5 separate regions of the Homo sapiens genome follow, and regions 1, 2, 3 and 5 are each reported to be linked to region 4. The links are microRNA targets in miRTarBase. Many come from high-throughput screens and were not tested one by one. Region 4 holds a microRNA gene; each other region holds the end of a gene's coding sequence.

The links. The annotated mature microRNA hsa-miR-4663 reads AGCUGAGCUCCAUGGACGUGCAGU and lies in region 4 at 2,904-2,927, shown strand. An mRNA with a match to its seed (bases 2 to 7 or 8) in the 3' UTR can be bound and repressed. Matches are read on the target gene's strand: a 7mer-m8 pairs with bases 2 to 8, a 7mer-A1 pairs with bases 2 to 7 and ends in A, and an 8mer does both.
Region 1: miRTarBase lists KY as a target of hsa-miR-4663. Seed matches in the 3' UTR shown: 7mer-A1 at 1,991-1,997 and 7mer-m8 at 193-199.
Region 2: the mRNA of ABHD15 is a reported target of hsa-miR-4663. Seed matches in the 3' UTR shown: 7mer-A1 at 991-997, 7mer-A1 at 1,930-1,936 and 7mer-A1 at 2,442-2,448.
Region 3: the mRNA of PLA2G4D is a reported target of hsa-miR-4663. Seed matches in the 3' UTR shown: 7mer-m8 at 534-540.
Region 5: miRTarBase lists HNRNPU as a target of hsa-miR-4663. Seed matches in the 3' UTR shown: 7mer-A1 at 3,082-3,088.

Annotation. Positions count from the first base shown.
Region 1 is chr3:134,600,327-134,604,455 of GRCh38, forward strand. KY (kyphoscoliosis peptidase) reads right to left here. Exons shown (of 11, transcript NM_178554.6): 11 at 1-4,129. The coding sequence ends at 3,253. It also overlaps a transcript of CEP63 not described here. Among named protein-coding and RNA genes, the nearest start is that of KY, 49 kb to the right of the region's middle. RefSeq lists a silencer at 3,741-4,035.
Region 2 is chr17:29,559,237-29,563,365 of GRCh38, reverse strand. ABHD15 (abhydrolase domain containing 15) reads left to right here. Exons shown (of 2, transcript NM_198147.3): 2 at 280-2,819. The coding sequence ends at 805. Among named protein-coding and RNA genes, the nearest start is that of ABHD15, 5.7 kb to the left of the region's middle.
Region 3 is chr15:42,065,059-42,069,187 of GRCh38, reverse strand. PLA2G4D (phospholipase A2 group IVD) reads left to right here. Exons shown (of 20, transcript NM_178034.4): 20 at 247-2,179. The coding sequence ends at 473. Among named protein-coding and RNA genes, the nearest start is that of PLA2G4D, 27 kb to the left of the region's middle.
Region 4 is chr8:123,214,629-123,218,757 of GRCh38, reverse strand. MIR4663 (microRNA 4663) reads left to right here and starts at 2,895; the gene lies at 2,895-2,970.
Region 5 is chr1:244,851,159-244,855,287 of GRCh38, forward strand. It overlaps HNRNPU (heterogeneous nuclear ribonucleoprotein U), which reads right to left. Exons shown (of 14, transcript NM_031844.3): 13 at 3,815-3,886; 14 at 1-3,345. The coding sequence ends at 3,292. It overlaps SNORA100 (small nucleolar RNA, H/ACA box 100), which reads right to left and starts at 3,059; the gene lies at 2,929-3,059.

The sequences.
Region 1 (4,129 bases), not on the chromosome of region 4:
CTTTCTTGGCAACTTGTCCCTCCTGCTTAACAACAGGAAATAGTTCTTTATGTCTAGCCGAAATCCTTCATGCTTCAGTTAGTCTATTTATTTACTTTTAATCTTAGCAGGCAGTGAGGAGGCTGTCCTGGTAGGACAATGTAACATATGGGGAACTCACAATGATCATAATCAGATTGAAAATGGAGTCCAGCTGAGCTATGGCACTTCTGAAACAAGCTGGAAAGAAGTGTACTGAAGTTGTGGTTGTAGTGCCTCTGCCCACCACTCCTCCACCCTCGGTTCCCTTCTGCCCTGTGGCCTGGGGGCTGCCATCCTGAGAATTGCAAGCAGATACTTTCTGAGTTTGATCGGTTCCAATCCTTCAATGGTATAGTAATGAGTGTAGTCACAGCTGTTCCATCCAGTCCTATGTCAAGTGCTTCTGTTTCAAGAAGTTATTTCCAGGCAAAACAGTCCCATCACATCCCTTGTCTTTTCAACACACCAGGTTGTCCCCCAGGATGCCCTCACAGCTTGTGCGTGACAAAGATGTCCTCCGTGTACACATAAGGTAGCGCTGAGAAGCCACGAGAAAGCACCTAGTGATTTTAACATAAACATTTCCACAGCATTTTCAAGTTCTGCGAAAAAGCCCGGTGATAGATCAGCCTCGCGGTGTGCAGCGCCGGCAGCTCCGCACTTCGGACACCTGGGGGCGCCCGTGCCATTCCGCCGGCGACTGGGACTCGTCGCCCGGGAAACAAAGATGGGGATTTAAAGAAAAGCCTTCAAAATGCAACTCCGAATGTCTACCCTGAGCAGCATGCGTGTAAAAATTCATGAAGATTAGATTTCATTTCATGTATTTTTACTTCAGTGGAAAGAAATGCAGGTGATTTTCTGACTGCGCCTACAGCTGTCTTTACAAAGGGGGTGCCTAGTTAAACGAGAGGGAGGGGCTTGCTGATGCCCTGCGGTGCTTTGAGGGGCGGGGCCTCCCTCTCTGGTGCTGGGGACAGCTCCTATTTTGCTGGGTGGCATTCTCTGCAATGCTCCAGGATGTATTGATTAATTATATTGCATATCGAAAAGGTATGGGGGTCTCCAGCAGGACTAAGCGAGGCAGCCAGCGCGGGGTCCAGTGAGTGACATGCGTCATCGAAGGCACTTATTGTTTTGATGAAACAAACACATTTCTTTAAGCCCATAAAATCAGAAGTGTGCAAGACGGCTGTTTTCAGGGTGTAAAACTCCCTTTGTTTCCCTGTGGTGGTGCATAGCTGTTATGCCTCCGGGGCCTTTGTGCATTTTTCAGGTGTGAGTGACACGAGGCTGGCTGGGTGGCCTCGGTGGCAGAGACTGCGGAGGGCGCAGGACCTGCCCAGGACAGTTCAGCCCCCCAGGGGAGACACCCCTTTTGCTCGAGGCCGCCGGCCTGTTGGATGATGGGCACCCTTGTGAGCTGGTTCTGGGCTAGGCCACCGTGCTGGGTGGCAGTGGGGACTTTTAGGGGAGGGATCCCGGGGGATAATGAACAGAAGTGTCTGGAGCCTGGATCTTCAGTCAGGCCTGGGCAGGGAAGGCTGCTGCTGCCTGGCAGTTTCCTCACCCTGTACTCTGGATGGCAGGGGCCGGGCCCCCTTGGTTCACCTCTGTAGCCCAAGCATCTGGTACTTCTGTGAGCATTTGTTGGATACAGGGATGTGAGGGTGAGTGCCACGGAGGAAGCTATGAGGGTCCCAGCTGGCCCTGGCTGTGGTTGAGCCTGGAGGCCTGTGGAGGGGCTGTGGGGAGAGGTGCCAGGCAGTGCTGGCTCTCAGGGGTTGGGGGGCACTGAGACAGCCAGGGGCCACGGAGCTGGAGAAGCCGGGAGTTCAGCAGGGAGCATGTCTGTGTGCCAGGATGGTTCTGCAGTGGCCATGTGGGGCCTCTCTCGCCTTTCCCTCTTATCTGCCCTCGCTGAAGTCAGCCTTTCCTCCGTTGCCATGGCAACGGCAGCCTGAGGCGCTGCTGAGGGCCAGCTGGGCAGCTGAGGCCTCTCAGTCTGTGCCTGAGCAAGCAAGGAGCCCTGAGCTGTCCCCATGCAAGGTGAGACTGGAGGGGGCTGTCTTCTCAGAGAAGGGAGGAAAGGAGACGGGATAGGATGTTTTCTCCGAGACAGGCACAAAAGCTGCTCTCGTGCAGCTGGAATTCTTCCCAGCCCTGGCTTTGCTGGTAGAGACACTGGGGGCAGGCAGAGCCCTGTTAAAGTGTGAGTCTCCTCGGCATTGCCGCACTGCACTACTCACCTGATCTGCGCCCAGGTCCTTATTCAGGGCTATCCACAAGACTCCCCAAGGGCCTGGCCAGCCTCTGGAGGCTCTCTGTGGAGGTGGGGCAGGGGCCTGAGGCCCAGGCTCTGTGAGGGCCTGGAGGGCACTCCAGGCCTTAGACTGAACTACCTGCCCTGTGTACTCCTCTCAGAGCAGAGCTGGAGGTCTTACACCCTCAGACCAAGGCTGCAGCTCTGCCGACAGTGTCCCTCCCACCTGCACAGCCACAGCGGGCATGGGCTGCTCTTTGCTTTGCAGTCTCCTCACAACTTTCTGGTTGTCACATTCCTGACTATACTTAGGGATGTTGGAGACGATCAGCTTCCAGCCAGTTGTGGGTCAGCTGGCTTCCTCACCACACCCTTTTTCTTGGGCTCTTGAAGAACAAGAAGTAGCTAATGAAGAGGCAGCAGGATGCAGAAGATGATCAGGTCTGGGAGGAGAAGATAGTCCAAGATTCCCTGGGGGCTCGGAGCTGTCGAGAGGCACGGTGATATTGCTTGAAAGGGGCTCTGTGATTCAAGGACAACCCAGCCTTGCAAATCATGTCCCCTTGGGCATGGAAGAGAATTCTCTAAGCATCATGTGAAAAGCTGTCAACCTGGGCAATATCCCTGCTTTCCCTCATCAACCCTACAGCAACAACAACAGCAGCAGCACTAATACGAGAAGGGGCATCTGGATGCAGGTGTACAGTTTACAATACCTTAGATTTACATAGCACCTTTTCCTTCTAAAGAGCCACTGCCTCTGCCCCCTCAGTCACAGCCACACCTGAGTGAAGCCTTCAGAACACAAAGATCACAGCTCCTGTGGCAGAGGTGGGACACTGAGGCAGAGGCCTAGAAGGGATTTCATGCAGACTCAGTGGTGTCCAGGGCTCCCTGCACTTCCTTCGAGCCCTCCCTGGGGAGGTCTGGCCTTGGCCCTTTGGGAGGGTAAGACCGGGGCACAGCCCTCACTGGGCATTCACTTTGTATTTCAGGATGTAGGAGTAGAAATTGTGGTTGGCATTCTCCAGCACCATGACATAGACTTCCTGGCAGCCAGCTGTGCTGCAGCTTCCCTCCCAGTAGCCCTCGTGGTTCAGGGTCAGGGGCCATGTGTCCTGCCCCTTCACCAGGACTTTGGCAATACCATGCAGCTTCAATTTGAATGGGACATTCCGGTTGGCAGGAAGCACACCTGACAGAGGTTCCAGCAGCTCATTGTCCTGTCCCCAGTTGCCAAAGCTCTCAGGGAACATGGGCCAGTTCACCTTGGTGTTGGCACAGCATACAAGGTAATTAAAGACGAAGATGTAGTTTCCTGGTTCCTGCCTCTTCTTGACAAAGATCTTGAGGGCAAACTTGCCTGCATGGGGCAGCTGGACTTTCAGCTCGGTCTGCTTCTCCCGGTGCAGCTGGAAGATGTAGCGCCGCTGTGTCTCCTCAGTGATGGGGCCATCATCCCCGTGGAGGGAAGCCAGGACATTAATGCCCTCCTCCACGCTGAAGCTGATGGAGCAGCGCCCGTCGCTGGTGTGGATGATAGGGTCAGGGTGGGAGGGCTTCATGATGCCCATCTGCTCCGAGAACCAGCTGGGGCCCACGGGCTGGTGAAGCTCAGCAGGCAGCTGGACACCCATGTCCACATAATTGCACTTGAGCGTGTACTCCAGCACTGAGCTGTAGATGTCGGAGTTGCCCTTGGCAAAGATCTGCAGCTTGTGAGTGCCCATGGTTGGAGGGTACACCTCCAACTTCATCCCATTCTTCCTTAGGCTCAGCAGCCCATGCTCTTGCTTGCCATTGAGCATGAACATGAACAGCGTCGGGGCGCAGCTCTCAATGGTG
Region 2 (4,129 bases), not on the chromosome of region 4:
GTTGCCCAGGCTGTTCTCAAACTCCTGGACTTAAGTGATCCACCCACCTCGTTGGCCTCCCAGAGTGTTTGGATTACAGGCGTGAGCCACCACAACCAGCCTTATCTGGTTTTAAATGATGGCCATGAAATTAAACGTTTTCGAAGCCCTAAATGGCCAAAGAAAGCCTCTGTGGACAGATCTGGCCTGCGGGCTGTCTGTCTGTCTCATCTGCTGTCACCTGATGTTCTCATTCTTCCCTCTCTTTCCCACCTTCCCCACTAAACACCTCGCTGCCAGGTATGCCACAGCCCTGGAGGACACTGTGGACACCAGCAGACTGTTCAGGAGCCGTTCCCTTCGAGAGTTTGAGGAGGCTCTCTTCTGCCACACCAAAAGCTTCCCCATCAGCTGGGATACCTACTGGGACCGCAACGACCCGCTCCGGGATGTCGATGAGGCAGCCGTGCCTGTGCTGTGTATCTGCAGTGCTGACGACCCCGTGTGTGGACCCCCAGACCACACTCTGACAACTGAACTCTTCCACAGCAACCCCTACTTCTTCCTCCTGCTCAGTCGCCACGGAGGCCACTGTGGCTTCCTGCGCCAGGAGCCCTTGCCAGCCTGGAGCCATGAGGTCATCTTGGAGTCCTTCCGGGCCTTGACTGAGTTCTTCCGAACGGAGGAGAGGATTAAAGGGCTGAGCAGGCACAGAGCTTCCTTCCTTGGGGGCCGTCGTCGTGGGGGAGCCTTGCAGAGGCGGGAAGTCTCTTCCTCTTCCAACCTGGAGGAGATCTTTAACTGGAAGCGATCATACACAAGGTGAAAGACCTGGCCTGAGAACCCCCAAGTCCTGCAAAGAAAAACAGAGCTGGGCAAGGGGGAGTCCTGGAAAGATGGGGCGGACTGAACAGAGGGAGCTCCAGCTCTGTGCTCCTCATTCAGTCCCTCTCTCTTAAATTGGTGCCTTGAAAGAGAAGGAACGTCCTGCGAGCCTGCACTCACTTCATCCTCAGCAGAACTCCTGCCTGGCCTCTGCTCAACATATCCCTACTCATCCGGTCAGCAGCGGCGCGTTCCAGTCACTGTCACCTGTCACTGACATCACAAGCCAAAGGATAGCACTTTTTCAATCCATGGACTCAGGAGAAAATGCCCTCTTACTGGCAGTGGCTAGAGGGATGAGACGTTTGTGTATGTCACTGGGCAGTGACCCCGATTCTCAAGCTGGAGCCATTTGATGTCATGAGGACAGGATGTTTGTGTCTCGGCCCCACTTCCCTCATTTGCTCTGTGGTTGTGGCGCCCTGCTTTGACCGAATGCTCTGGCAACTGCGGCAGCAGGCTTGTGTGTGTGAGAAGGGCGGCAGAGGCAGTGGGGCTGGCTCGCTGAGGGCTGAGCAGGTAGAGAATGTGAATGTCCATCTCAAGGAATGCGAAGTTCCAATCTCTCAGAGGAGCTCTGCAAGTCTCAGCTAGGAATGGGGCTGATCTGGCCCCCAAGCCTCACTGGAGAGATCCCAAGGGTATTTTACAAATAGGAAGCGCTCTCATGCAGGATCTGAGGGCTTTGCTAGACCATGGTTCAAGGAGTCAGAATCTTGGCTACCCTACATGCTCCCTCTGGCACCATTTCAGGGGATTACTCCAGAGAGCTGCAGCCAGAACTGTTTATCTCCTGAGATATGGACTTTCTCTAAGTCAGGAAAAGCACAAACCTCATAACTTAGGTGTTTTCTGGTTGGTTGCTCCCTTTTCTGATCCTACTACTGGCCTCTCCCTTTCCAGAGCCAGGAGACACATCTGGGACCAGAGGAAACAAAAGCACCAAGAGGTTGACTAGAGCTGACCAGTGATTTACAAATATTTCATATTCCAATGCTTCGTCTGCTCAATTATTCAAAAGGCCATCCCTGTAAAGGCAGAAAAGCTTCCTCTTAGATCTGGCCACTCAGCAAATAAGTGGGTATTTGGTTTTATGAAGAATAATGCTGAGGACTAGAGATATAGTATATCAGAGATAATATATAGTATACAGGTTGATCTAAATATTCTGGTTTGGATTAGGCAATTAAAATTTTTTTGGCAACAGGACATATGTTTCCATGTGTTGCTAAGATTCAAAAACTTTGCCCTGAAGTTTTATTTTAATCGTCATTGAGAAAGAGGGCTCCTGTTCTGACCTCAAAAACAGCAAAGCTGTTGTAAAGAAGAGAGCTGCTTATACGAAAACCCACATTCCAAGACTTGGTATAAGGTATTCCTGAGGCCTTGATTTCAGGTTTGGATAATCTTGCCCCAGATTCTAGATCTTGTTCTTCTAGATCAAATCAGAAGAAACTTTGAAATAACTCCAAGAATCTGCACTGAAATGTAGACAGCACTCGATAATCTAAGGGACATTATCTTGTTGTGAAAAATTATCTCCCTCCTGGCTGGGAGCGGTGGCACACACCTATAATCTCAGCACTTTGGGAGGCCGAGGTGGGTGGATCACGAGGTCAGGAGATCGAGACCATCCTGGCTAACACAGTGAAACCTCATCTCTACTAAAAATACAAAAAATTAGCCGGGCGTGGTAGCGGGTGCCTGTAATCCCAGTTACTCAGGAGGCTGAGGCAGGAGAATGGCGTGAACCCGGGAGGCGGAGCTTGCAGTGAGCTGAGATCGCACCACTGCACTCCAGCCTGGGCGACAGAGTAAGACTGTGTTTCAAAAAAAAAAAAGAAAAGAAAAATTATCTCCCTTCTCCCCACTTCTTGTTTCTCCTCCTCCATATTCCTCATCTGACGTTCTTTTGCCGTTTCTAAGCAGGATAAATAAAAAGGAACTGAAATTAAGCTGCTCTACTGCCGGTGAACAACAGCCTTGGTGTAAGCCTTGGTGAGGGAGATTTACTGCCATCTGGCCATCCGCTACCACCAGCTGCCCTCCACATCTGGTACAGTGAGGATTTCAGTTAATTAGGGTCCCGTAGTCCCAGTTGCCCTGCAAAATGGGAAGCAGCCTAGTGGTTTTTAAACCCTAAGGCTTAAAGAGTCCCTAAGGGTGAAAATCTGCATAGTTTCTCTAGAAACTATCCAGATAATGCAAGATTCTGGTTCTTCAAGAGAATAGCTTTTGGAGAAATAGTGGTTGGTTTTCCTTTCCCTTTTGATAGGAAAGAAAGTTTTCCAGGGAGAGAAATGTATAAACTTTGTAGTTACAGTCAGAAGAATGGCAGAATCAGCCCCAGTTCACGTTCCATTAATTCCTTTGAACCCTGAACTCTAGTGACCCGAACCCTAAAGTATTTCTCTTCCGTGGCCCTTGTGCCAGATGCACCCACTGCATATCCCAAGAACATTCTCTGATTTTCCCATTACTACTTGAAGACTAGGGCTGAAATGCCTGTTTTGTGCTGAGAAAGTGTAATTTCTGTTCAAGCAGGAAAGATTTGGATGGCCCTGTCCTTTAGCCTAATGATTCAAGAATCACACAGGTGAATTCTGCTTTGGTAAATAGCTAATTGTGTGAAGCCAGCTGGAGGAGCCCCAGGCACACTGTTCTGTGAATGGGTGGCCCTTGAACAAAATGGCAAGTTATGAGTTTGAGGAAGCAAGAAACAAACAACAAAACCAAACAATAGGCGGGGCACAGTGGCTCTCACCTGCAATACCAGCACTTTGAGAGACTGAGGTGGGAGGATCACTTGAGGCCAAGAGATCGAGACTAGTCTGGCCAACATAGCAAAACCCCATCTCTACAAAAAATTAAATTAGCTAGGCATGGTGGTGCACCCTGTAGTCCCAGCCACTCGGGAGACTGAGGCGGTAGCACTGCTTCAGCCCTGGAGGTCGAGACTTCAGTGAGCCCCTCCCGAACACCTAAGAACCACTGAGTTGGACTTTCCAGGTGGTGGGTCTTCAGTAATCTTCAGGCCTCATTACTTGCTTGCCTCCTTTTTGGTGTCCGTTATTTACCAACACCTTCAAATGGTAAGATAAAAAAATGAATACAAATAAGGAAACGAGCCAGGTGCAGTGACTCACTGCAAAGTGCAGTAATCCCAGCACTTTGGGAGGCCGAGGCAGGCAGATCATTTCAGTCCAGGAGTTCAGGACCAGCCTAGCCAACATGGTGAAATTCCATCTGAGTGTGGTGGCACACG
Region 3 (4,129 bases), not on the chromosome of region 4:
CTGCCTGAATAGCCTAAGGGGTGTCACGCCACAAGGCAATGAAATATGAAATTGTATTTTCTACCACCAAATAGTACCCATCCAAAGAGCACCCTGCCACCCACATTTACATTCCTGGGCAAAGGACACAGAGAGCTGGGAGGAAAGCAGGGGCCCCTCCAGCGGGGGCAGCCCTCCCTGTGCGCCGCTGCCAGGCTGTAGAAGCCCCGGCGTCCTGCTCCTGACACCCCTCCTACCCCTGGGCAGGTGTCCAGCGCAGCCCCGCAGAGCTCCAGGGTGGCCAAGTGGATCTCACCGGGGCCACCTGCCCCTACACCCTGTCCAACATGACCTACAAGGAGGAAGACTTCGAGCGCCTGCTGCGGCTCAGTGACTACAACGTGCAGACCAGCCAGGGTGCCATCCTGCAGGCCCTGAGGACCGCGCTGAAGCACCGGACTCTAGAGGCGAGGCCTCCAAGGGCACAGACCTGAGGTTGCTCAGAGGCTGCAGGACCCTCCAGGGCCTGCGGGCATAACCTGATCTGTAGCTGGGCTCAGCCACAGGCCTTCCTGGTTGGAGTTCTGGGCTCTCCCAGGCCTGGGTGGCCTCTGTAGCTGGTCTCACTGCCCAGAGGGAACTGCACACACAGACTTCTCTCTTACGTTCATGGCTGGCTTGAGATGAGTTGAAAATAACTTCGCCAGGCCAGTGTGTAGAACAGCTGGTCCAACCAGACAGACTTTCACACCACAATTACTTCCATGCCTGAGCAGGATAGATTTGAAGTGCAAGCCGGAGGCAGCAGATCAGGAGTAGGGACAGGAAGGACAGGGGATGCCTGACCTGACAGGTGGCTTCAGGCCTCGGGAATCACAAGACATCCTGAACACATTGCCTCCTCATCTTCTTCCTGCTCCTCCACCTCCTCCTCTCCTTGTCCTTCTCCTCTTTGTCCTCCTGCTTTCCGTATCCAAGTCTTGTACTTGTTTAAATTTATTCCTAAATATTTTATTCTTTTTGATAAGTGGAGTTACTTTCTTAATTTCATTTAGATTATTCATTGCTATTTTATAGAAATACAATGGATTTTTAAATGTTGATCTTGTATTCCGCAATCTTGCTGAAGTTGTTTACCGGCTCTAATACTTTTGCGGATTTCTTAGAATTTTCTGTAGACAGATCATGCCATCTCCAAATAGAGATGGTTTTACTTCTTCCTGTCTGATCTGAATGCCTTTTATTTATTTTTCCCAATTGCCCTGAGCAGTACAATGATGAACACACGTTTCAAGAGCAGACATCTTGTCTTGTTCCTGACTCTGACAAGAAAGCATAAGTCTCTCACCATTTAGTGTGATTTTAGCTGTGGGTTTTTCTTGGACATCCTTATCAGGTTGAGAAAGTTCTCTTTTATTTCTAGTTTATTGAGTGTTTTATGATGAAACGGTGTTAGGTTTTGTCAAGTGATTTTTCTGTGTCTATGGGCATGATCATGTGGTTTTGTCGTGTATTTTATTAATGTACTCTATTGCATTAATTGGTTTTTGGATATTAAACCAACTTTGCATTCCTGGGGCAGTTTCCATTTGATTATGGTATATAAACCTTTTTGTTTATTGCTGGCACATTTCTTTTTCTTTTTCTTTCTTTTTTTTTTTTTTTGAGACAGAATCTCATCACACTCTGTCACCCAGGCCAAGTTCAATGGTGCAATCTGGCTCACTGCATCCTCAACTTCCTGGGCTCAAGTGATCCTTCCACTTCAGCCTCCCAAGTAGCTGGGACTACAGGCATGTAACACCATACTTGGCTAAATTAAAAAAATGGTTTTTTGTAGAGATGAGGTCTCACCATGTTGCCCAGGCTGGTCTTGAACTCCTGAACTCAAGCAATCCTCCTGCCTCAGCCTCCCAAAGTGCTGGGATTACTGGTGTGAGCCACCACGGCCAGCTGCTAGCACATTTCTTACCTCCCTCATGCAAGGGTGCGTGTACACATACACACACACACACACCTGGCCCCAGGTGGGGGTTGTAGTGAGAGCTTCGGGACAGACCTTGGCTCAGGGACTGCCCTCATCTGATGTCCTCTCTCAGCTTCCTTCCCTGTGCCTCTTCTGCATTTGGCTTTATTTTGATTCTTCACTTTTTCCCTTTATCATGGACTCTTATTTTTTTAACAGTGATATGGGAATTGACTAGCTGTTGTGTTTTATTTTATGCTGGGCATTTTACATTATTCCCCTTAATTCTCACATTTGCCTAATGTGTTAGGTAGAATTACCGTCTCCTTGTTATCAGTGATGAAACTCAGGGTTGGGAAAGGAACAGAACAAAGCATCCTGTGACTCGTCTGCAGGTCCCTGGTGTCCGCCTGATGCACACAAACTTCACAGAGCACCTGTGTCAGGCAGGGTCACCGCGCCCCCGTGACGCAGCAGGACAGAATCAAGGCCACTCCATAAATATGCCTGAGCATGGACAAAAAATGAGGGCACTGTGAAACCATAAAAATGGCCAAACAGTGCCCTCTCCTGTTTCACGTGAGAGACTGCGGTTTCTCTACCAGGCTTTTCGTCCCTCCCGTTCTTCCACCTCCTGGATAAAAATTGTGAAGATCCTCAATTATAGACTCGCCCCACTCCCTGACAGCACCCAATCCACAGCAACACTTTGCTTCCTTGAACATTTCGTAATGTCACCCTACAAACGCCCAAATCCTTCAATAAGCACCCCCCCACCACACACACACACACACACACACACACACACACTTACTGAGACTGCACTGCCTCCTAGTATACAGTCTTCTTAGTGCAATGGGTACCAGTTAACTCAAATTTGTTTGGCTACTGGGCTGTTCCTGCTGGCCTCTGGCTGGTAGGCGTCCACAGGGATTAAGTAACTTGCTAACCTCAAAGGTGGCAAATCCAGGACTGGAGCTTCTGACAGCCACACCTCTCTGTGTCTTTGGGCACTGACTTTGTAACGTGCCCTATTCGTAGTTTAGAATTAACCTCACCAAAGAGAGGTCCAGTCTCTGCCCGTGGCTAGTGGGAGGTGACCTCTGGGTCCTGGAATGTCCTGTCTGACAGGAGTGTCTTTGTTTGCTGGGGGGCTTTGGAGACTAAAGGTCGGTCACACAGGCAGCATCTGATCAAGCCTCAGTAAAGTCTCTGGGCACCAAAGTCTCAGGTAGACTTTCCTGGTGGACAACACCCTGTGCGTATCCTCACACATTGCGGCCCAGAGGAGGCAATGCTGTCCAGAACCCCAAAGAGAGAGGACACCTCCCTGGAAGCTTGCAACTGGACCCCTCCCAGATTCTGCCCTAAGCCTCTCTTCCTTTGGCTGGTTTTAATTTGTATCTTTTCATGATCATAAAACTGTAATCATAAGGTTAGTGCTTTCCTGAGTTCTGTGAGTCACCCTAGAAAATTACTGAAGCTGAGGGTGGTTGTAAGCACCCCCAAATTTGCAGCCAGCTGGTCTGAAGTGAAGGTGGCCCTGGGGACTCTGAACTTGCGGCTGGTGGCTGAAGTTGGGGCAGTCTTGTGGGGACTGTTCCCTCGGACTGGACAGTTTGGTGACCTCTGCTGCAGAGGTCAGGCGTCCCAGAAGATGTGGTGGTCTGGAGGACTGTGCTCCCAACCTCAGGGTTTGGCCAACTGCCGGCACGGATGCTCTGGAGAGTGAGCCGGCATGGTAGAAAAAAAAAAAGACCCTTTCCATTTGGCGAACTTTCAATAAAGCCAGCCAGACAGCCAAGGAGAGTGGGCTGGGCTGAGGCTCAAAGCCACACCTGGCATGTGAGTGTGGATGTTTATCTGTCTCATATACCCGCCCCCCACTAGCTGCTGTCACCCCAGCCCCTGACTACCCAAACACCCGGAGGCCCTCTCAGCCCCACCCTGACCCGGGTGAGGACCGTGACTCCAGCAGCTGTCAGGCCCCCACACAAAGGCATCTATGTAAATCACACAGTGCTCTTCCTGCAGCCTGTGGGCCCTTCCTGGGGCCAGCTCAGAGACAGGAAGACAGCAGGCTGTCTGTCACCAGTCCCAGGACAAGGCTGGCGCTCTGCCCTCTGCTCACCACAGGCTGTGGCCGGGGGAAAGGCGAGCAAGATGAACTGAGAGATGCTCCCT
Region 4 (4,129 bases):
CTTTCTAGTACTCTCCTCAAAACAGGCAAAGAACTGCTCTTATATTTTGAACAACTCTTTTTTTTTTTTTCTTTTTGAGATGGAGTCTCACTCTGTTGCCCAGGCTGGAGTGCAGTGGCACGATTGCGGCTCACTGCTGCAACCTCTGCCTCCCAGGTTCAAGCAATTCTCCTGCCTCAGCCTCCCAAGTAGCTGGGATTACAGGCATGCACCACCACGCCCAGCTAATTTATGTATTTTTAGTAGAGATGGGGTTTCGCCATGTTGGCCAGTCTGGTCTCAAACTCCTGACCTCGTGATCCACCTGTCTCGGCTTCCCAAAGTGCTGGGATTACAGGCATGAGCCACCGCGTCCAGTTGAACAGTTCTTTTAGTGACCTCGATAGCATGACCAGCAGTTGCACATTAGTCTTAATGTGAAGCCAAAGACTGTATAATTAGTAGACATTTCAATTTTAGGAATTAAAAATTGTGAAGATCCTTCCACAGCACCTCATTGCTGTCCCTCTATGCATTCGGTCGTTAGCTATCAAGTATTGAGCTATGATGTGTCAAGCATTGTGTGGTTGCTGGGGAGACGCTGGTTATCGTGGAGTTTGTGATCTAGCTGTGGATTGCCCTCGGGATGGGACATAGACTCTAGCATGGCTTGCCAAGCCCTTCGTGGTACAGCTCTGGCTACCTAGAGCCCCATCCTTCACTGCTGCTCGCCTTTAAATGGACTGTGACCTTCACCTCAACCCATCCCCGCCCCCATCCAATGGCTAATTCACATTCATTTTTCAGGTCTGGTTTAGATGTAGCTTCCTGGAAGTCTTTCTGACCTGCCAGTGGTGGGAGGTTTCCCACTTCTGTGCTCCCTTACTGCTGGTTCAGTCCTATACTGACTCTTATTCCTGTGTTTTGTATTCCATGTTTGCCTGATGGTTTGCCACTAAATTTTTTAAAGTCAGGGACTGTGACTGTTTTGTATATATTTGTGTCCCCAAGGCAGAATAACCTGGCATCTCACTAAATATTTGTTGGAAGAATTACTGAATGAATTGGCCAGCATCTTAATTTTGCAAAAGGTTAATACCCTGCAGATGTGATACTGTGCTGAGGCAGTCCTAGCACTCTGCCTGTTTCTGTCTGTAGCTAAACCTCTTCCTTCTGTCCATGTGATCTCCCTAGAAATGCCCCATTTTTTTCCTCTAACCCCTCTCGGCTTCTGGTCTGTATCCTAGCCCACTTGCCAACTTGGCCCTTGCTTTGAGCGTTTCATCTTCTGGCTTTCCTCTCCAACTTGCTGTCTGCATCATCCTGAATGCCCAAGTGGTCTTCACAGATCCTACTCACACCTCACTTCCGCCCCGCCTCGCCTTCCTGGCAGCAGTGTGTTGACGCAAGTGAGAACCTGGCCTCTTGAACTCTGATGCCTCTGCTGTAATAAAGGGTGGGAAAGGACACCCAGGAATACTGGGCACCTCTGGGTTTCATCACACAAAGTCATCACAATCATTTCCAGCACAGATGGTGAAGGTAATTGAGCAATGATTACACTAAAGAAAAACCTTCAGGCCTGCCAATTCAGACATCACTACCCTTAACAGTGAGTGAGTCACTTAGAAGGTGAGCAAATGTGCACCACAGATGTGACTGCACTCCAGGTGCATGGGGTGGGACCTAAGGGAAATTTCTTGCCTCTTCCACTCTCAAAAGGCCTGTCTTCAACATTTGCTCCTCAAGGGGAATCTATGCTGGATGTCTGAGCGGGTAAGAGTCTTTTTTTTTTTTTTTTTTTTGAGGTGGAGTCTTGCTCTGTTGCCCAGGCTATAGTCCAATGGCACGATCTCGGCTCCCTACAACCTCCCCCTCCCAGGTTCAAGCGATTCTCGTGCCTCAGCCTCCCAAGTAGTTGTTGGGATTACAGGCACGCACCACCACACCCAGCTAATTTTTGTATTTGTGGTAGAGATGGGAGTTTTACCATGTTGGCCAGGCTGGCTCAAACTCCTGAACTCAGGTGATCTGCCTGCCCCAGCCTCCCAAGGCTCTGAGATTACAGGTATGAGCCACTGCGCCTGGCCATCTTTTGTCCTTTATATTCTCACACCCCTACCATCCTCACACTGGGTCAGAGGGATCTTGGAAAGATATTCTCACAGTCCTGGCCGGGCACAGTGGCTCACTCATGTCTGTAATCCCAGCACTTTGGGAGGCCGAGGTGGGTGGATCACGAGGTCAGGAGTTCAAGATCAACCTGGCCAAAATGGTGAAACCCCATCTCTACTAAAAATACAAAATTTTTTAAAAAAAATACAAAAATTAGCCGGGCATGGTGGCAGGCACCTGTAATCCCAGTTACTCGGGAGGCTGAGGCAGAGAATTGCTTGAACCTGGGAGGCGGAGATTGCAGTGAGCCGAGATCGCGCCACTGCACTCCAGCCTGGGGAACAGAGTGAGACTCTGTCTCAAAAAAACGAAGAACACATCATTCTCATAGTCCTTCATGAGGCCTGCGAGGCCCCACATGGCCTGGCCCTGACCCACTCCAGCCCAACTCGCTTTGCTTCCCTTGGTACTGTACCCACCCTGGTTTCCTCTCTTGTTCTTTGACTCCTCAAGCTTGCCCTTGCTCAAGCCTTTGCCCATCCAGTCACCTCCACTTTGAACATTCTCCCCTGCACTCCCCCAGCCCAGCCTTAAACGTCCCCTTCCTGTGGATCTCCACCCAAAGGTCACTCTCAGACAAGATGCTCCCGATCCCCAGACTGGCTCGGGTTCCCCTTCAAATGTCATCATATGCCCTGTGCTTTTTTTTTTTTAATGGCTTATTGGAATTGTAATTAATTTATTGTATAATTCCTCCTGGCCAGATCACAAGCTCTAGGGCGGTGTCTCTGGTTTGCCTTCTGTGGTGGAGCTGAGCTCCATGGACGTGCAGTGGCATCTGTCATTGCTGCCTTCCTGGAGCTCAGGCCCTTGCAGAGGCAGTCTGAGGCATGGCAAGCCACAAGCGCACAGCCTGTCCCCACCAAACCCCACTTCTGGTGCCAGAGGTGGCCCTGTACCCTGCACAGAACCATGTTTCAAAAAAATGTGCTTCCTTTTAGGAAAACCTTGGGCAAAAAATCTCTACAAAACAAATCTAAGGCCACCATTTATTAAAAGATGTTTTAAAGGGCAGCTTTATAGTGCTTTTGAACTTGAATCTAGGTAGTCTGTTTACACCCTGCTTTCCAGGGGATTAATCAAAACAACAAAACAATGAGCAAACAGAGAGGGATGTGCAGAAGAGCCCAGAACTCTGCCAGTGTGGCTGCACACGCAGTCAAGTCGGACTCGGTCATCCACACGCGCTCGCTTTCTCTGTGCCTGGCCCTGTGCTGTAGGGTCAGAAGCTGAAGAGAATGCCCCCCGAACCTGCAGAAGAACATTCCGAAGAGTGGCAGCTCCATTTCTGTTTTCCCAGTCAAAATGTGTCCATCAGGAGACTTTGCTAAAGAAGTTTGGAGAGGAAAGGCATTTGTCCTCCTTGTCCTTTTCTCCCTCCTTCGCACGGGGTGGCTTCATCACCTAGCGCTTTGGTGTTGTATCTGCCCAGCTTCTGAGCTAACCACCACCCTTGCCCCCCTCCTCTCTCTTTCACAGGGGTGAGTACCTAGCAATCATGTTTGTACTCAACTACCTTAACTGATGCGGGAGTCGGGGGGTGTACCTGACCCAAGCTGTACCTGGCTAATCAGATTCTCTCCCAGAGGTTCAGAAATGATTCTTCTCATGGGTCTGACCCTAGCAAGCTCAAAAGTAGGGGGGTGGCTGTGTTCTGCCAAAGTGACTGAGGAATAGACAGGGCAGGACTGCAGAGAAGCAAAATGAAGGAGATGCCCCAAAGGGGCAGAGGGACAGTTCTCTGCTTTGCTACTTTTTTTTTTTTCTTTTTTCTTTATTTGAGACAGAGTTTCACTCCTGTTGCCCAGGCTGGAGTGCAATGGTGCGATCTCGGCTCACCACAACCCCTGCCTCCTGGGATCAAGCAATTCTCCTGCCTCAGCCTCCTGAGTAGCATTCACCACCATGCCTGGCTAATTTTGTATTTTTAGTAGAGACGGAGTGGTCTCGAACTCCCGACCTCAGGTGATCCGCC
Region 5 (4,129 bases), not on the chromosome of region 4:
ATGGAAACACTTTGTAAAACATCCATTTATTATATCCAATGCTAAACACTACCACTTGGACTCTAAGATATGTTTATGCCTCTCTGTTTATTCTAGTTTTTTAAAAATCAAATATACAAGATCTACAATTATTTATATCCAAGATGTCTACACCACTGCCTAAGAAGCTATTAAAATATTTGTATTTGTGCAATGGAACCCATTATTCACATGGTCCTAGAATAAAAAGTCAATTTATATTGTGAATAAATTTATCAAAAAACATGTCATCCAATTCCCACAAATGAGACATTTTAAATACAGAATACACTCTGTTCATGAATATAAAATCCCCAGGTGAAAGTCCCTTAAAACACTATTATGGTTATGTTTCCTAGAATAATTTTATAACTTTTTCAGAGAATTCCTTTAAACTTGTTAAAATACCTTGTTGCTAGTGCTCAGAACATCTAGGTTCAGTCTTTATTTTTAAGACAGTATCTATCCTAGGCAAATGAGAGCTTGTTTTTATGTATTTAAGAGTTTCCTCTTGTCATTTCAATGTCAAATTGATTTGACTCAATTTCATGATTTCATCTCGCTCAAGGCCATCAACCGGTCAGAGCCAGAGCCCTTCAAAGGCTGTATGTGAGTATATGAGGGAAAACTTTCCACATAATTTTACATCATTTCTATCTCATAGCAGTTTTAGTTTTCTCATAGCTATCTCATAGCAGTTTTAGTTTTCTCAAATTCTATGCTGTTTTTGTACTACTGCAGCTGACCAATCCAAAGCCAGTTTACACTCAGCATGTGTTATTCTACTTTAAAATATAACCTTAGTGAAAGCACCCTTCAAATCAACAGCAATCTCACAGTGAGTTTCCTCTGGGTAGTCAGGATTTGTCCAGAACTACATCCTTTTCAGATGTTCAGAGTTTTGCTTGCCATTAGGGAGGCAAGGGAAGGATGAGCAATAAATCAGGTTTCTCGTTCGTATCTTACTTCTTACCTAATTTTCTCCCTGTTGCTTATTTGGTACATTCCCTTCTCTGAATTCCTTAAACACTTTATAAGGTTATTTCTGCCATACAAGTGTAGACAATTGTATTAATTCTAGTCTTGACTAAAGATTTTAACATTTTTCTGGGTGCCATTTTTATCTATTCTCTCTCCCCCCAAATTCTCTGGGCTAAACAGGCATGATAGTCTACCTAGTGTTACTTGACCATTACTTTCCCACTGCAATTATAAAATGAATTCCTTAATAAGCAATTTTAAACTAGAAGATATATCCAAAACTTTTTAAAGGCACAAAGGACAACTTTAGGACACAACACTGATTAGCATCAAAACCTGAAACTGTTCCTCTAGTAAGTCTATGCAATCCTAATAATGTATACTGAAGAGTAGTAGCTCAGGCCAGTGGTTCTTAGCATTACTTGCTAAAAAAGATAAAAATCCATGACACTATCTTCAACTGTTAAATATCTTATGTTAACTAAGGATTTGCCTGTTCCAAAAATGTCTCAACTGAACCTATACATCACCTAAACTCCAGCTTATAGCAAGAAAATTCCTTAGAAGTATGAATTCATATTTATGATCTGATTTTAAAGGGCTAAAACAAAATTCTAAGCAATCAGAAATATAGCAAACCTAAACTTACCAAAGCAACCTAAAAACACCAAGGAAACGCTAGACTGAAGTCAAATTTTAGTTCTACAGTTTGACTCCTGATTCCTCACTTCACATTGGTGAGGGGAAGATTAAAGTGTTCTGTGCAAACCCAATATAATTACAATTAGGGGATCTAATGTTATTACATAGCTACAGTCAAGTTAGCAGTGTTGTGTAGCAGTGACATCAATGACTGGCTTGCATGATGGCTTCTAAAAGCATCTGATCCCAGAGTTTCATGTATCATATATATGTATATAAAATAATCAGTTGAGGACAGCATTAGCATTCTGTAAAGATGATAAACTCAGTGTTAACTTCTCCCAGCCAGTACCTTTTCCCCTCATTAAATATGTTAAAAGTTGTCTGGGGGGGAGGGGAAGGGAAGAATTCAACTTTACTTCATAATTATGTATCAATTGTCAGTATACATTTAAGTTTTTAAAACCTAAATGTTCTATGCAGAGTAAAGAATAAGCTGTCCAGAAAGCACACACTTAATAAATTTCTCCTCTTGGGAGTTATATAAAGGGATTTTGAACCTTGATGGCGAGAATCCCAAAACAAGAGTAAAATGAATTCTTTTTATTGCAAACAAACGTCTAAATTAATTTCTCCACCCACTTTCTTTAGAAAGAAAAAGAAATCAGCAGGCTAAGGAGATACCCATTCAAGAACTGACATGATTAAAAATTAAGATATAAATGGGTGACTCACAATTTCATTAGCTTACAAAGATGGTGGAGTTAACTACTACAAGCACACTAGTTATACAGTATTTTGTGGGAGAAGGGCATACAGACATGGCTAACTTCATATAGATCCCATTAGACAACTGGATTTACAACAAGTTTTTTTAATAAGAAATGGGCAAAGCCAGCTTTCTTTTCAGAATCAAAATGCAGAACAAATGGAAAAATTATGGTATTAACCTTCACAAGTTTGAGCCTCCACAAATAATGCAACCAAGTTTTACATTTTTAACAGCCCTTCTACATACACTCCATCTTCTCTATCTTAGTTCCAAGTTTTAGTTTTCAATCCCAATTATACCAATTCCATTGTTATTTTAAGAAAAAACCTTCCCAGTTATTGTCAGAAACTATGATTTAGCTTACCCCCTCCACTACCCAGCAAACTACAGAGAGGATGGAGTGTAATATGAGCAGTACAGAGTCTTAATGCAATTCATGAGGACCACTTAGTCCTTACATGAATCTGGTTGCTAACATTTCTATTATATTGTGACAATGACTCCCGACTGTTATTCTCTGTGAGAAATGGGGGGAGTAAATTCTTAATAAAAGACACCAGGTACAAAGCAACATTTTACTTCTGTTGTGATAAAAAAAAAAAAAAGTCACATTTTACAGATAAAATGTAGAACCCTGAAATACTGACACATTCTCTTATCGTGCACAATGCTGAGGTTCTCTTACGATTCACTTTTAAACTGCAATTAAAAATGTACAAAAAAGAAAAGAAAAAAAATCAACCCACAAAGCTTCTAAAAAAGGAACCCGCAGGCACTTCCTCTTGTGGAATGTTTAAAAAGTTAGCCTACTAAAGAAAACAGTCGACTTCTTGTGAAGGTTTTGGAGAAATATGTATCAGTTCGTTTTATTTGGGTATTCAATAATATCCTTGGTGATAATGCTGACTCCATGGCTTCTGACCCCAGAATTGCTGTAAGAGAAAATTTTGTTTTTAAAGAAAAAACATCAATAAGCCACTCAAACTGTTTTTAGGAAATGACAATGAATCTAATTCAGAGTAATTTGCTGGAAACAAATTTATACCTGTCATACCTCTGATTTCTACCAAACCAGATTTAGTTTTAATATCCCATAATTATCAATACACATTACAAAACGAAACATCATGACTTTGTTAGTTTACACAATTAAAGCTAGCAGTAAAAGAACTGTATATATTAAATAATATTACTTTATTAAAAAAATTTAACTTATAGCAATCTTCAACCTATTTTGCCTTCAAAAGGTAGATTATGGCTACTACTGCAAGACGATTCACACTTTACCCTATTAACACTTATAAACACTTCAATCCCTGAACAAGATCTTTTTCAAGACTGATAAATCTTAGGAACTCAAAATACAATTAATGTACATAAAGCACATAAGAAATTACTTACACCCTGCTGCCACTGGTTGTAGCCCTGAGATTGATTTTTGTAGCCACGATTGTTTCCTCGTCCTCTGAAGTTCTACAAAAAGGAAATACTCTCTAAGAGCTCTGAGCCCAATTGCTTGTTAGGTTTGTGGGGGTGAGAGAGAGGAGCAGAAATGGACAGGTTGCTAGCCCCTAATCTTAGGTAGCAAGCAATACACAAATTCTGGATACCCTCTGCTGGTTTCTTATGTTTTAATTTTTTATTCATTATGAGAAATGCATCTGACTTGTTTAGTACACCTGAAAAAACTCAAAAGTAAGTAGACTCATTTCACCA